Linked DNA regions of Homo sapiens: all the other regions are linked to region 1. The links come from fine-mapping of genetic effects on gene expression. A gene starts in region 1. Each other region holds a variant in brackets. All regions are shown on one strand. Distances are between the middles of the regions.

Region 1 (4,109 bases):
CCCAAAGCCTGAGACCAGGGTCATTTGTCCCCAACTCCCCATCTGGCCCTGCTGTTGCTAGTACCTGTTATTTATTACCTGGAGGCCTGTCCAGCACCCACCCTACCCCCATAAAGCATTGTTTACACCTGTGTCTTGGCCTCCATTATTGTGAGATGGCAGGGAGATGGAAGAGGTCCCTGATGGAAGAATCATGTGTCATGGTGTTTGGGGGCCTTGTTTCTGTTTTTTTGTTGTTGTTGTTGAGATGGAGTTTCCTTCTTGTTGCCCAGGCTGGAGTGCAGTGGCGTGATCTTGGCTCACCACAACCTCCACCTCCCGGGTTCAAGCTATTCTCCTGCCTCAGCCTCCCGAGTAGCTGGGATTACAGGCATGTGCCACCACACTTGGCTAATTTTGTATTTTTAGTAGAGATGGAGTTTCTCCATGTTGGTCAAGGTTGGTCTCGAACTCCCAACCTCAGGTGATTCGCCCGCGCTGGCCTCCCAAAGTGCTGGAATTACAGGTGTGAGCCACTGGGCCTGGCCTTGGGGGCCTTGTTTCCTGATTGGACGTGGTGTGGGGTATACCAAGCATGATGACTCAGGTGCCTGTTGCGGAGGGAGGGAATTTGTTACTGTGTGGACAGTTTGTGACAATCTGTGTTCTAAGCTCACGTGTGTAAACACGCTGATGTCCCTGTGTTTGTGACATGTGTACATGTTTCCAGTACCTGCATATGGGATGATGTCTATAGGATATAATGTGTGCTGGTTGTGTGTGATGCTGACAGCCGTAACTGCTCTGTGGCCTTGGTCATTGTATTGGTGAGGCTGGTATTGTTTGGGACATCAAGGCCAGGGGATGGGAATTTGGACCTATAGGTGGGCCTCCGGTGTGTGCATGTCTGATGCCTGAGAGTCAGAGGCAGTGACTCACTACTGCGTGTGTGCCTGTGCATGTGTACCCCGAGGTCTGTGTGTGTTTTGGTGTGAATTTGGCTCCTTTTAAACACCCATGTGTGGCCAGGCGTGGTGGCTCATGCCTGTAATCCCAGCACTTCGGGAGGCCAAGGCAGATGGATCACTTGAGCCCAGGAGTTGGAGACTATAGCCTGGGCAACACAGAGAGACCCTATCTACAAAAATAAAAAACAGAAAAAGTTAGCCAGGTGTCGTGGTACACACCTGAAGTCCCAGCTATTCCGGAGGCTGAGGTGTGAGGATCACTTTAGTTGGGAGGTTGGGCCTGCAGTGAACTATGATCATGCCACAGCACTTCAGCCTGGGCAAAAGGGTAAGACCCCATCTCAAAAACAAAACTAAACTAGAAACACCCTTGTGTGGCCATGAACCCTGTGTGTGCCCTGAGGACTGCGGGCTTTTGTGCAATCCTCACGCATGTGTGGATACCAGTATGCATGCCCTTGTGCTCACGCGAACCGCCCTACGCCCTCAGGTGGCCTGCAGGGGACTGGTGCAGCCCCGAGGACACTCCCAGTTGCTCGTCGCCCTCCCATCTCCACGTCGGCCTTCACCGACCCGGCGGGAGCCTTGAGTCCCAGCTCTCCAGAGCAATGGTGGAGCGGGCAGGGCATTCAAAATGACCTTATCTCCTTAGTCTCCTAAAGTGTTCCCAGCTGGCCATGCAAATGTCTTCTCTGTGTAGCGTTCCGTGGATTTTTTTTTGTTTCATTTTTTAATTTTGTGTAAAGATAAGGTCTCACTCCGTTGCCCAGACTTTCCCTGGTTCTTTATTCTGATTCCCACAATCGTCCCGAGGGGGCAGGCCGGAGCGGGTCTTGAAAATACACATTTGCACATCCCTTCTAGTCCGCGTTCCCTTTTCTCAAGGGCAACCCGCACTTTTTTGCCTCCGTTATAAAAGATACTTATGTAAATTACTGACGTGCGAATTTACATACATTTCTCAACTAACTGCGTAGCCATTTCTCCGTCTCTCACCTCCGTTCCTGGACGGCGAGAAGGAGGAGGAGCTGACCATGTAAATGAAGTCACGCGCACCGCGCTGCCGAACTCGGTGCCCCGCGCTGGGCGGGGGGCGGGTAGGCCTGTCCATGTAAATCACATCATTTGCGTGCCCCGCCCCGCCGACGCCACTTGATTCCAACATGCAAGAAACGCCCCCTCCCAGACCCGGCCCCTCACACTGCGTTCCCCCTCCCGCGCAAAGGGGGCGGGGCGGAGGATGCAAATGAACCTCGTGTAGGCCACGGACCGCTGTTTCCTTTCTCCTTGGTAGGGGGGTTGTCCCGAACTTCCTCGCCCCGCTCCGCCCCGCCCCGCGCGGCTCGGGCCTGCGCAGGCGCCGTCCCCTCCGCGGGGCGCGGTCACGTGCCCACCGGGCGAGGCGGGGCGGGGCGTCGCGCGCGGTGGGGGCGGGGTATGGCGCGCTGTGCGGCGCAGGGCGGCTGGCACAAACGGCGGCGCCGGGGCCGGAGGAAAAAGCTCGGTGAGGAGGTCGCGGGGCGAGAAGGGAGCGGGAGGAGACTAAGCCGGAGCCGGGGCGCCGGCGCGAACCGGGCGGGGTGTGGGGGCGCGCGCCGGGGCCTGCCGGGGCGACCCCGGGAAGGGGGATGTGGGTGCGGCGCGGGGGAGGGGACGCGCGCCGGTTACGTTGGGTGCCGGCCGTTGTGGGGGTTGGGGTGGGGGCGGGGAGCGCGCGCCGGGCGGAGGCCGAGTGGAGGGGGAGGGGAGGGGGTCCGAGCGGCCCTTAGGCCCTGCCCCTGTCGCCTACTGCGCTCAGAAGGGGCCTCAGGGCCTGCCCCGGGTTGGGGGCGTTGGGGTGCCCTGGATGGGGGCACCTTTATCTCTCGTCCTGTCTCCGGGTGCGTGCACCCTCCTCCGTCCTTTCCTCTGTCGCCGCGGACCCTCTCCCCGAGGGCCCCTCCCGTCGGTCAGTCTCGGGACCTCCCTTCCGTCTGGGCGTGTGTCCGCCCCCGGCCGGCTTCCTCCCGTCGGGCTCGGGTCGACCCCACCGTCCCGCTCCGCCCCGGGTCCTCCCTCCCAGCTTCCCTCCGGTCTATTTTTCTGTCTCTGGGCCCCTCGTTCTCTTTGTTTTTGGACTCCCCAGTTTCCTCTGTCTTTTGACCCCCCCGCCCCCACCCTGACTCTCCCTGGAACCCCCACGTTTCTCGTTGTCTTTCTGGAACGCCGAGGCAGGTCCCTCCTATTTTCCAAACCCCCTCCTTTCCCACTCCTCCACACCACCCTTTTCTACTCCAGCCCTCCTTCTTCTGTCTTTGGTTACCGCGTCCCACAACCTGCACCACAGTCCTCTGTCTTAGGGTCATCTACCCAGCCCCTGGCCTCCAGCCTCTCCCTATCACTGCCTCTTATCTGTCAGCGGACTCCCGCACCTCCAGATTCTCAGGGTCCTCTCCCCGACTTGGCCTCAGGTTTTGGGGGGCCTCTATAGTCAAGTCTGTCCTGGTCGTCTTCCCCACTCCTGCCCATACCATCCCGGCTTTCCCCTGCCTGCCTGTCTCTAGTTTCTCTCACATCCCTTTTTTTTTTTCCTTTCTCTAGCCACCCTGAAGGGTCCCTTCCCAAGCCCTTAGGGACCGCAGAGGACTTGGGGACCAGCAAGCAACCCCCAGGGCACGAGAAGAGCTCTTGCTGTCTGCCCTGCCTCACCCTGCCCCACGCCAGGCCCGGTGGCCCCCAGCTGCATCAAGTGGAGGCGGAGGAGGAGGCGGAGGAGGGTGGCACCATGGGCCCGGGCGGTGCCCTCCATGCCCGGGGGATGAAGACACTGCTGCCATGGACAGCCCGTGCCAGCCGCAGCCCCTAAGTCAGGCTCTCCCTCAGTTACCAGGGTCTTCGTCAGAGCCCTTGGAGCCTGAGCCTGGCCGGGCCAGGATGGGAGTGGAGAGTTACCTGCCCTGTCCCCTGCTCCCCTCCTACCACTGTCCAGGAGTGCCTAGTGAGGCCTCGGCAGGGAGTGGGACCCCCAGAGCCACAGCCACCTCTACCACTGCCAGCCCTCTTCGGGACGGTTTTGGCGGGCAGGATGGTGGTGAGCTGCGGCCGCTGCAGAGTGAAGGCGCTGCAGCGCTGGTCACCAAGGGGTGCCAGCGATTGGCAGCCCAGGGCGCACGGCCTGAGGCC
Region 2 (4,109 bases), 41 kb before region 1:
AAGGCATGCACCACTATGCCTGGCTAATTTTTGTATCTTTTGTAGAGACAGGGTTTCACCCTATTGCCCAGACTGGTCTTGAACTCTTGAGTGCAAAGGATCTGCCCACCTCGGCCTCCCAGAGTGCTGGGATTACAGGTGTGAGCCACCATGCTTGGCCATCTCAGCCATCTTCTTTGCATAAGACATTGGTGCCCTTTGCAGACCTGGGTGGTGAGAGGGAGTCCATCCTTGTTGAGCTTGAATCTCACTTGCTGTCAAGTGATGCCCTTTGCTGGTGAGATGTGGTGGTACCGGGTTCAGATGGAATACGTGGACTGGGCTCTGCCATACGCTTCCTTATGCCCTCCAGATTGATGCCCTGGGCCAGTGAGGAATCCTCTGAGAACCTGTTTCCAGTAAAATTGGGACAGTCATAGTTGCCACCTAATGGGTTTGTTGTGAGGAAGTGAAGTTACCTCCATAAAGCATTTGATGGGGGTGCGATGACTCATGCCTGTAATCCCAGCACTTTGGGGAAGCCAAGGCAGGAGGATCACTGGAGCCCAGGAGTTCAAGACCAACCTGGCCAACATAGGAGACTGTGTCTACAAAAAATAAAAAATTAGCCGTGCGTCGTGCTGCGTGCCTATGGTCCCAGCTCCTTGGGAGGCTGTGGTGGGAAGATTGCTTGAGCCTGGGAGGTCAGGCCTGTAGTAAGCTACCATCATGCCACTGAACTCCACCCTGAGCAGTAGAAGGAGATTCTGTCTTTAAAAAAAAAAAAAGGCACTTGATGGTATCTAGTCAAATGTTTGCAGCCAGGTGTGGTGGCACACTCCTGTAATCCCAGCACTTTCGGAGGCCAAGGTGGGCTAATTGCTGAAGCTCAGGAGTTCAAGACCAGCCTGGGCAACATAGCAAGACCCTGTCTCTGCACAAAATCCAGAAATTAGCTGGGCATGGTGGCATACACCTGTGGTCCCAGCTACTCCATAGGCTGAAGTGGGAGGACCGCTTGAGTCCGGGAGGTTGAGGCTACGGTGAGCCATGATCATGCCACTGCACTCCAGCCTGGGTGACAAAGTGAGACCTTGTCACCAAAAAAAAAAAAAAAAAATTGTGGTGGAGTCTGTGCTAGGCTTGGCATACTGCAGTAAACAAATGGGACAGGCTTATAGCTCCTCAGGCAAGATAGACAAGTTAACGTACCATGACAGGAGGTGGGAAATAGTCATGAAAGAAAAGGAAGTAGAGTAAGAATGACATGGGAAGAAATTTAGACGTCGTGGTCAGAGGTGGCAACATTTCCTCTGAGACTGGGTGACTAGAAGGAGGCCACCATGTAAACCTCAGGGGAGGGATGTTCCAGGTAAAGAGAGCAGCCAGTTCAAAGGCCCTGGGGCAAAATTGGTGTGTCAGACCTGGGGGCCAGTGTGGTTGGGAACTCAGGAGGGCGGTGGAATGTGGGCAGGGATGAGGTGGGGGAAATCTGCCAGGGCCACGTCATGCAGGCCCATGTCAGGGTGCTGGTGGCAGTGAAAAGAATCACTCATTTATCGAGTGTTTACTACGTGCCGGATGCTGTCCTGAGCACTTTGCATGTATGTGCACATGTTCATTATATAGCAGCTCTCTGTAAGCACATCTTACAGAAGAGTAGAAGAGTGTACTTGGCCACTTGAGTGGTTCCTGGCTGCTTCTGTGATTGTTAGGTCTTGAGAGATTATGGACCCGAGGCATTCTGGGTACCCCATCAATTGGCTGATGGTCTTCTATTTGGGCTGCGCTTCTTCTAAAAAGGGGAGCTCAAAGGTCTTTTTTTCCCCCACTGCAGAGCTAAAAAAGTCCCTGTACGCCATCTTCTCCCAGTTTGGCCAGATCCTGGATATCCTGGTATCACGGAGCCTGAAGATGAGGGGCCAGGCCTTTGTCATCTTCAAGGAGGTCAGCAGCGCCACCAACGCCCTGCGCTCCATGCAGGGTTTCCCTTTCTATGACAAACCTATGGTGAGCATTGCGGGTACGGAGGCTGTGTGGGTGTGTAAAATGTTATAGGAGACTGGGCGGGCCTGGATTAGAGGAGGGGATATTACGGTTCATTTGCCAAGGTGAGGCTGGACCAGGCTCCCACTGCACCTTGCCTCATTTAAAAATCTTTTCTTTGGCCGAGGGC[G/A]GTGGCTCACGTCTGTAATCCTGGCACTTTGGGAGGCCGAGGCAGGTGGATTACCTGAGCTCAGGAGTTTGCAGCCAGCCTGGGCAACACCGTGAAACCCTGTCTCTACTAAAATACAAAAATTAGCTCGGTGTGGCAGCATGCACCTGTAGTCCCAGCTACTCCTGTGGCTGAGGAAGGAGAATTGCTTGAACCCGGGAGGCAGAGATTGCAGTGAGCCGAGATCCTGCCACTGCACTCCAGCCTAGGCAACAGAGTGAGACTCTGTCTCAGAAAAAATAAATAAATAAATAAATAAATAAATAAATTATTTTGAGACAGAATCTTCCTCTGTTGCCCAGGCTGGAGTGCAGTGGTGCAATCTTGGCTCACTGCAACCTCCACCTCCCGGGTTCAAGTGATTCTCCTGCCTCAGCCTCCTGAGTAGCTGGGATTACAGGCACGTGCCACCATACCTGGCTGATTTTTTTATTTTTAGTAGAGACGGGGTTTCGCCATGTTGCCCAGGCTGGTCTCAAACTCCTGAGCTCAAGTGATCTGCCTGCCTCAGCCTCCCAAAGTGCTAGGATTACAGGCGTGAGCTACTGTGCCACACTAAGAATCTTTAACATACCTTCCCCTACTGAATAAGCACCATGAAAGAGGGGTTTTTGTCTATTTTGTTCATTGCTTTATTCCCAGAGCCTTGAATGGCGCCTGGCATCTGGCAGGTTCTCCTTAAACAGCTAAGTGAGTGAGATTGAACCTGGAAGACTGAAGTATTCTTGTGTGACAGGAAATCCCCCTGCACTGCACTCCTCTCCTAGCATTGTCTCCTCGGTCCTTTGGCCTGATGTTTATTGCTGTTCCAGCTTCCCTTAAAAATACCAACAGCCTTTCTACTGAACACTTGCTTACTGTGTGTCAGGTACTGTTCCAAGCACTTTAACTCATTTAGTCCTCACAACAGTCCTTTGAAGTGGGAAGTATCATAATCCCCATTTTTCAGACAAGGAAGTTAAGGCCAAGATATTTCTGTGTTTCTCAGTAAGCTCCTGATAAGGTCTGAATTTTTTTTTGTTTGTTTGTTTTTTGTTTTTTGTTTTTTGCTCTGTTGCCTGGGCTGGAGTGCAGTGGTGCCATCTCAGCTGACTGCAACCTTCGCCTCCTGGGTTCAAGCGATTCTTCTGCCTCAGCCTCTTGAGTAGCTGGGACTACAGGTGCGCACCACCATGCCCAGCTAATTTTTGTATTTTTGGTAGAAATGGGGTTTCCTGGCCAGGCGCAGTGGCTCATGCCTGTAATCCCAGCACTTTCGGAGGCCGAGGTGGGTGGATCACCTGAGGTCAGGAGTTCGAGACCAGCCTGGCCAACATGGTGAAACCCTGTCTCTACTAAAAGCACAAAAATTAGCCAGGCGTGGTGGTGGGCGCCTGTAATCCCAGCTAGTAGGGAGGCTGAGGCAGAATTGCTTGAACCCGGGAGGCAGAGGTTGCAGTCAGCTGAGATCTCATCACTGCACTCTAGCCTGGGTGACAGAGCAAGACAATGTCTCAAAAAAAAAAAAAAAAGAAAAGAAACAAAGAAATGGGGTTTTGCCATGTTGGCCAAGCTGGTCTCCACCTCCTGGCCTCAAGTGATCTGCTCGCTTTAGCCTCCCAAAGGGCTGGGATTACAGGCATGAGCCGCAGCACCTGGCCCCTGATAAAGGTCCAATTTTGAATCTTGGCAATTGGGCTCTGAATCCACGCTCTTAACCCGTTCTGCTCTCTGTTTGGTAGCGTATCCAGTATGCCAAGACCGACTCAGATATCATTGCCAAGATGAAAGGCACCTTCGTGGAGCGGGACCGCAAGCGGGAGAAGAGGAAGCCCAAGAGCCAGGAGACCCCGGCCACCAAGAAGGCTGTGCAAGGCGGGGGAGCCACCCCCGTGGTGGGGGCTGTCCAGGGGCCTGTCCCGGTAAGCCAGGTCCC
Region 3 (4,109 bases), 43 kb after region 1:
CCTCCAGTTGCAACTGTGTTGTAAATGCAGGATCTCATTCATTTTTATGACTGAATAGTACTCCTTTTTGTGAATTTTCTTTATCCATTCTATCCACATTTTCTTTATCCATTCATCTGTTGATGGACAGTCAGGTTATTTCCAAATCTTGGCTACTGTGAATAGTGCTGCAGTAAACATAGGAGTGTGGATATATCTTGGATATACTGATGTCTTTTCTTTGGATATATACGGTGGGATTGCTGGATCATAGGGTCATTTTATTTTTAGTGTTTTGGGGAACCTCCAAACTGTTTTCCATAGTGGTTGTACTGATTTAGATTTCCACCAAGAGATATGTATGAGAGTTCCCTTTTCTCCACATTCTTGCCAGCATTTGTTATTGCCTGTCTTTTGGATAAAAGCCATTTGAACTAGGGTGAGATGACATCTTATTGTAGTTTTGATTTGCATTTCTCTGATGATAATTATGTTGAGCACTGATATGGTTTGGATCTGTGTCCCCACCAAATCTCATGTTGAATTGTAGCTCCCAATGTTGGAGGTGGGGTCTGCTGGAGGGTGGTTGGATTTCTCATGAATAGTTTCATACTGTCCTCTTGGTGCTGTTCTTGTGATAGTGAGTTCTCATGAGATTTGGTTATTCAAAAGCGTACAGCACCTCCCCGCTCACTCTCTCTTGCTCCTGCTTCCGCCGTCTAAGATGCCTTACTCCCTCTTTGCTTTCTGCCATGATTGGCAGTTTCTTGAGGCCTCTCCAGAAGCAGAAGCTGCTGTGCTTCCTGTACAGCCTACAAAACTGTAAGCCAATTAAAACTCTTTTCTTTATAAATTACCCAGTCTCAGGTATTTCTTTATAGCAGCGTGAGAATGGATTAATACAAGTCTCAGGTATTTCTTTTCTTTTTTTTGAGATGGAGTCTCACTGTGTCGCCCAGGCTGGAGTGCAGTGGTGTGATCTTGGCTCACTACAACCTCTGCCTCCCAGGTTCAAGCAATTCTCATGCCTCAGCCTCCCAGGTAGCTGGGACTACAGGTGCCCAGCACCACGCCTGACTAACTTTTTTTGTATTTTTAGTAGAGACAGGGTTTCACCATGTTGGCCAGGCTGGTTTGGAACTCCTGACCTCAGGCGATCTGCCCGCTTTGGCCTCCCACAGTGCTGGGGTTACAGGCATGAGCCACCGTGCCATCAGGTATTTCTTTATAGCAGTGTGAGAACGGATTAATACTAGCACCTTTTCATATACCTGTTTGCCATTTGTATGTCTTCTTTTGAGAAATGTCTATTCAAATCTTTTATTAATTTTAAATTGGATTATTAGATTTTTTTCCTATTGAGTTGTTTGAGCTCCTTATATTTTTTTGTGAATTATTCTTTGTCAGATGGAAAACTTGCAGATATTTATTTTCTTCCACTCTGTAGGTTGTCTCTTCACTTTGTTGATTGTTTCCTTTGCTGTGTAGAAGCGTTTTAACTTGATGTGATCCCATTTGTCCATTTTTGCTTTGGTTCCCTGTGCTTGTTGGGTATTACTCGAGAAATCTTTACCCAGTGCAATGTCCTGGAGAGCTTTCTCAGTGTTTTCTTTAGTAGTTTCATGTTTGAGGTCATAGATTTAAGTCTATGATCCATTTTGATTTGATTTTTGCATATGTCAAAAAATAGGGGTCTAGTTTCATTCTTCTGCATATAGATGTCCAGTTTTCTTGGCATTGTTTATTGAAGTGACTGTTATTTCCCCAGTGTATGAATGTTCTTGGCACCTTTGTTGAAATTGAATTCACTGTAGATGTATGAAGTTGTTTTTGGGCTCTTTATTATGTTCCATCGGTCTACGTAACTTGTTATGCTAGTACCTTGTTGTTTTGGTTACTATAGCTCTATAATACGATTTGAAGTCAGATAATGGGATTCCTCCAATTTTGTTCTTTTTGCTTAGGATAGCTTTGGCTACTCTAGATCTTTTGTGGTTCTGTTTAAATTTTAGAATTGTTTTTTCTGTTTCTGTGAAGAATGTCATTGGTATTTTGATAGGAATTGCATTGAATCTGTAGATTGCTTTGAGTAGTATGAACATTTTAACAATATTGCTTCTTCTAATCTCACTGTGTCGCCCAGGCTGGAGTGCAGTGGCTCCATCTCAGCTCGCTGCAACCTCTGCCTTATGGGTTCAGGCAATTCTCCCACCTCAGCCTCCCAAGTGGCTGCAACTGCAGGCGCATGCCACCGTGCCCGGCTAATTTTTGTATTTTTAGTAGAGATGGGGTTTCACCATGTTGGCCAGGCTGGTCTCGAATTCCTGACCTCAAGTGATCTGCCCACCTCGGCCTCCCATAGTGCTATAATTAACAGTATGAGCCATCAAGCCCTGCCGTATTTCATTGTATGAACATATTACAGTTCATTTATCCATTCACTTGTTGAAGAACATCTTGGTTGCTTACAAGATTTGGCAATTATGAATAAAGCTGCTATAAACATCTGTGCAGAGGTTTTTGTGTTGCTATATGTTTTCAACTCATTTGGGTTAATACCGAAGA[A/G]CATGATTGCTGTAGCACATGGTAAGAATATGTTTAGCTTTGCAAGAAACCGCCAAATTGTCTTTCAAAGTAGCTGTGTCATTTTGCATTCCCACCATCAATGAATGACAGTTCCTGTTGAGCCACCTCCTTGTCAGCATTTGATGTTGTCAGCTTTGGATTTTAGCCATTCTAATAGGTGAGTAGTGGTACATCATTATTGTTTCAATTTGAAATGGCTACTGACATATGATATGGAGCATCTTTCCTTATGCTTATTTGCTATGTGTATATTTTCTTTGGTGAGGTGTCTGCTCAGATCGTTTGCCCATTCTTTAATTGGGTTGTTTTCTATTGAGTTTTAACAGTTCTTTGTGTATTTTGAATGTAAGTCCCTTATCAGGTATGTCCCCTGCAAATATGTTCTCCTAGTCTGTAGCTTGTATTGTCATTCTCTTGACAATTCTTTTGCAGAGCAGAAGCTTCTAATTTTAATGACACAGAACTTATCAATTGCTTCTTTCAAGGATTGTGCTTTTGGTGTTGTATCTAATAAGCCATCACCAAACTTAAGGTCATCTAGATTTTCTCCTACATTATCTTCTAGAAGTTTTGTACTCACTATTCATTTAGGTCTACAATAAACTTGGAGTTAATTTTCGTGAAAGCCGTAAGGGAGCTTCTAAGGGGGACACACACTAACTTCTTTGAGAGTGGGCAGTGATTGTGAAACTCTCAGCTGGGTCTTACAACAGACCCCAGATCCATCAGGAGAGCCCAGCCTTCAGAACCCATAGTGGAATATGTTTCATGCATACACGGAGGAGAATATGCAGTCATATGCTCACATGCATGTCTGAACATGATCACACACATGAATATGGCTATGTCCTGATCCAGAGTTCTCTCATTCTCTGTAAGTGATTCTTTCCTTCAACTTCTTCATTAAGGGATATATTGACAGAATGTCATTAAAATTAAAAACTTCTGCTCTGCAAAAAATTGTTAATGGACTGACTCTGTATGTCCATTCATGTCTCGTTGTGTCCCTGGACTGACTCTGAATGGGCTACAGTGGCCTTATCTGGTAGCAAGCACAGATTACACCCGGGTATTCAAAGCATGTTGAGTAGGTGAGAGTGTGGGCATGTGTGCAGTGAAGGCAGGACAGCCACCCGCCAGGTCTCTGGAAAACTCCCCAGGACAGGGATGTTCAGGCCATGTGATGCTATACTAAGCTGTTTTACGTGAGGAATAGGTGCTTTTTAAGAATCTGTCTAGAAGGCTATGGGCACAGATCTGTGTTCAAAGATTTTCTGGGCACTTATGTTTTGTGAGACATCAGAGACAACTTTCTAAGCCTCAGTTTTGTCACGTGTAAAATGGGCATGAACGCCCTTCGCAGAGGTTTGTGGCAATTAGGTGAGCGTGCAATGGTTTTTGAACAAAGGTGACACGGGGGTACGTGCTCAGGAAATAAGAGCTGCTATTATTACTACTCTTCATAGCATAATGTAAGGGTTTCCTTCCTCTCATCCCAGCTCGGAAGCACCTTATCAAGGTGAACTGAGCCGCTTCTGTTTCTT

The links. PIP is the estimated chance that this variant, and not a neighbour inherited with it, causes the effect.
Region 2: its variant is the best candidate, but not a certain one, in a credible set for the expression of EGLN2 in whole blood (TOPMed, PIP 0.77).
Region 3: its variant is the best candidate, but not a certain one, in a credible set for the expression of EGLN2 in whole blood (TOPMed, PIP 0.80).

The regions. Positions count from the first base shown.
Region 1 is chr19:40,796,812-40,800,920 of GRCh38, forward strand. It overlaps EGLN2 (egl-9 family hypoxia inducible factor 2), which reads left to right and starts at 2,380. Exons shown (of 6, transcript NM_080732.4): 1 at 2,380-2,451; 2 at 3,528-4,109. The coding sequence starts at 3,762. It overlaps RAB4B (RAB4B, member RAS oncogene family), which reads left to right. Exons shown (of 8, transcript NM_016154.5): 8 at 1-131. MIA-RAB4B (MIA-RAB4B readthrough (NMD candidate)) reads left to right here. Exons shown (of 10, transcript NR_037775.1): 10 at 1-133. RAB4B-EGLN2 (RAB4B-EGLN2 readthrough (NMD candidate)) reads left to right here. Exons shown (of 12, transcript NR_037791.1): 8 at 3,528-4,109. RefSeq lists silencers at 2,158-2,517, 2,668-2,717.
Region 2 is chr19:40,755,516-40,759,624 of GRCh38, forward strand. It overlaps SNRPA (small nuclear ribonucleoprotein polypeptide A), which reads left to right. Exons shown (of 6, transcript NM_004596.5): 2 at 1,817-1,989; 3 at 3,916-4,095. Among named protein-coding and RNA genes, the nearest start is that of SNRPA, 6.4 kb to the left of the region's middle. The variant G/A (reference allele first, on the strand shown) is at 2,156.
Region 3 is chr19:40,839,549-40,843,657 of GRCh38, forward strand. CYP2A6 (cytochrome P450 family 2 subfamily A member 6) reads right to left here. Exons shown (of 9, transcript NM_000762.6): 9 at 3,993-4,109. Among named protein-coding and RNA genes, the nearest start is that of CYP2A6, 8.8 kb to the right of the region's middle. RefSeq lists an enhancer at 4,076-4,109. The variant A/G (reference allele first, on the strand shown) is at 2,545.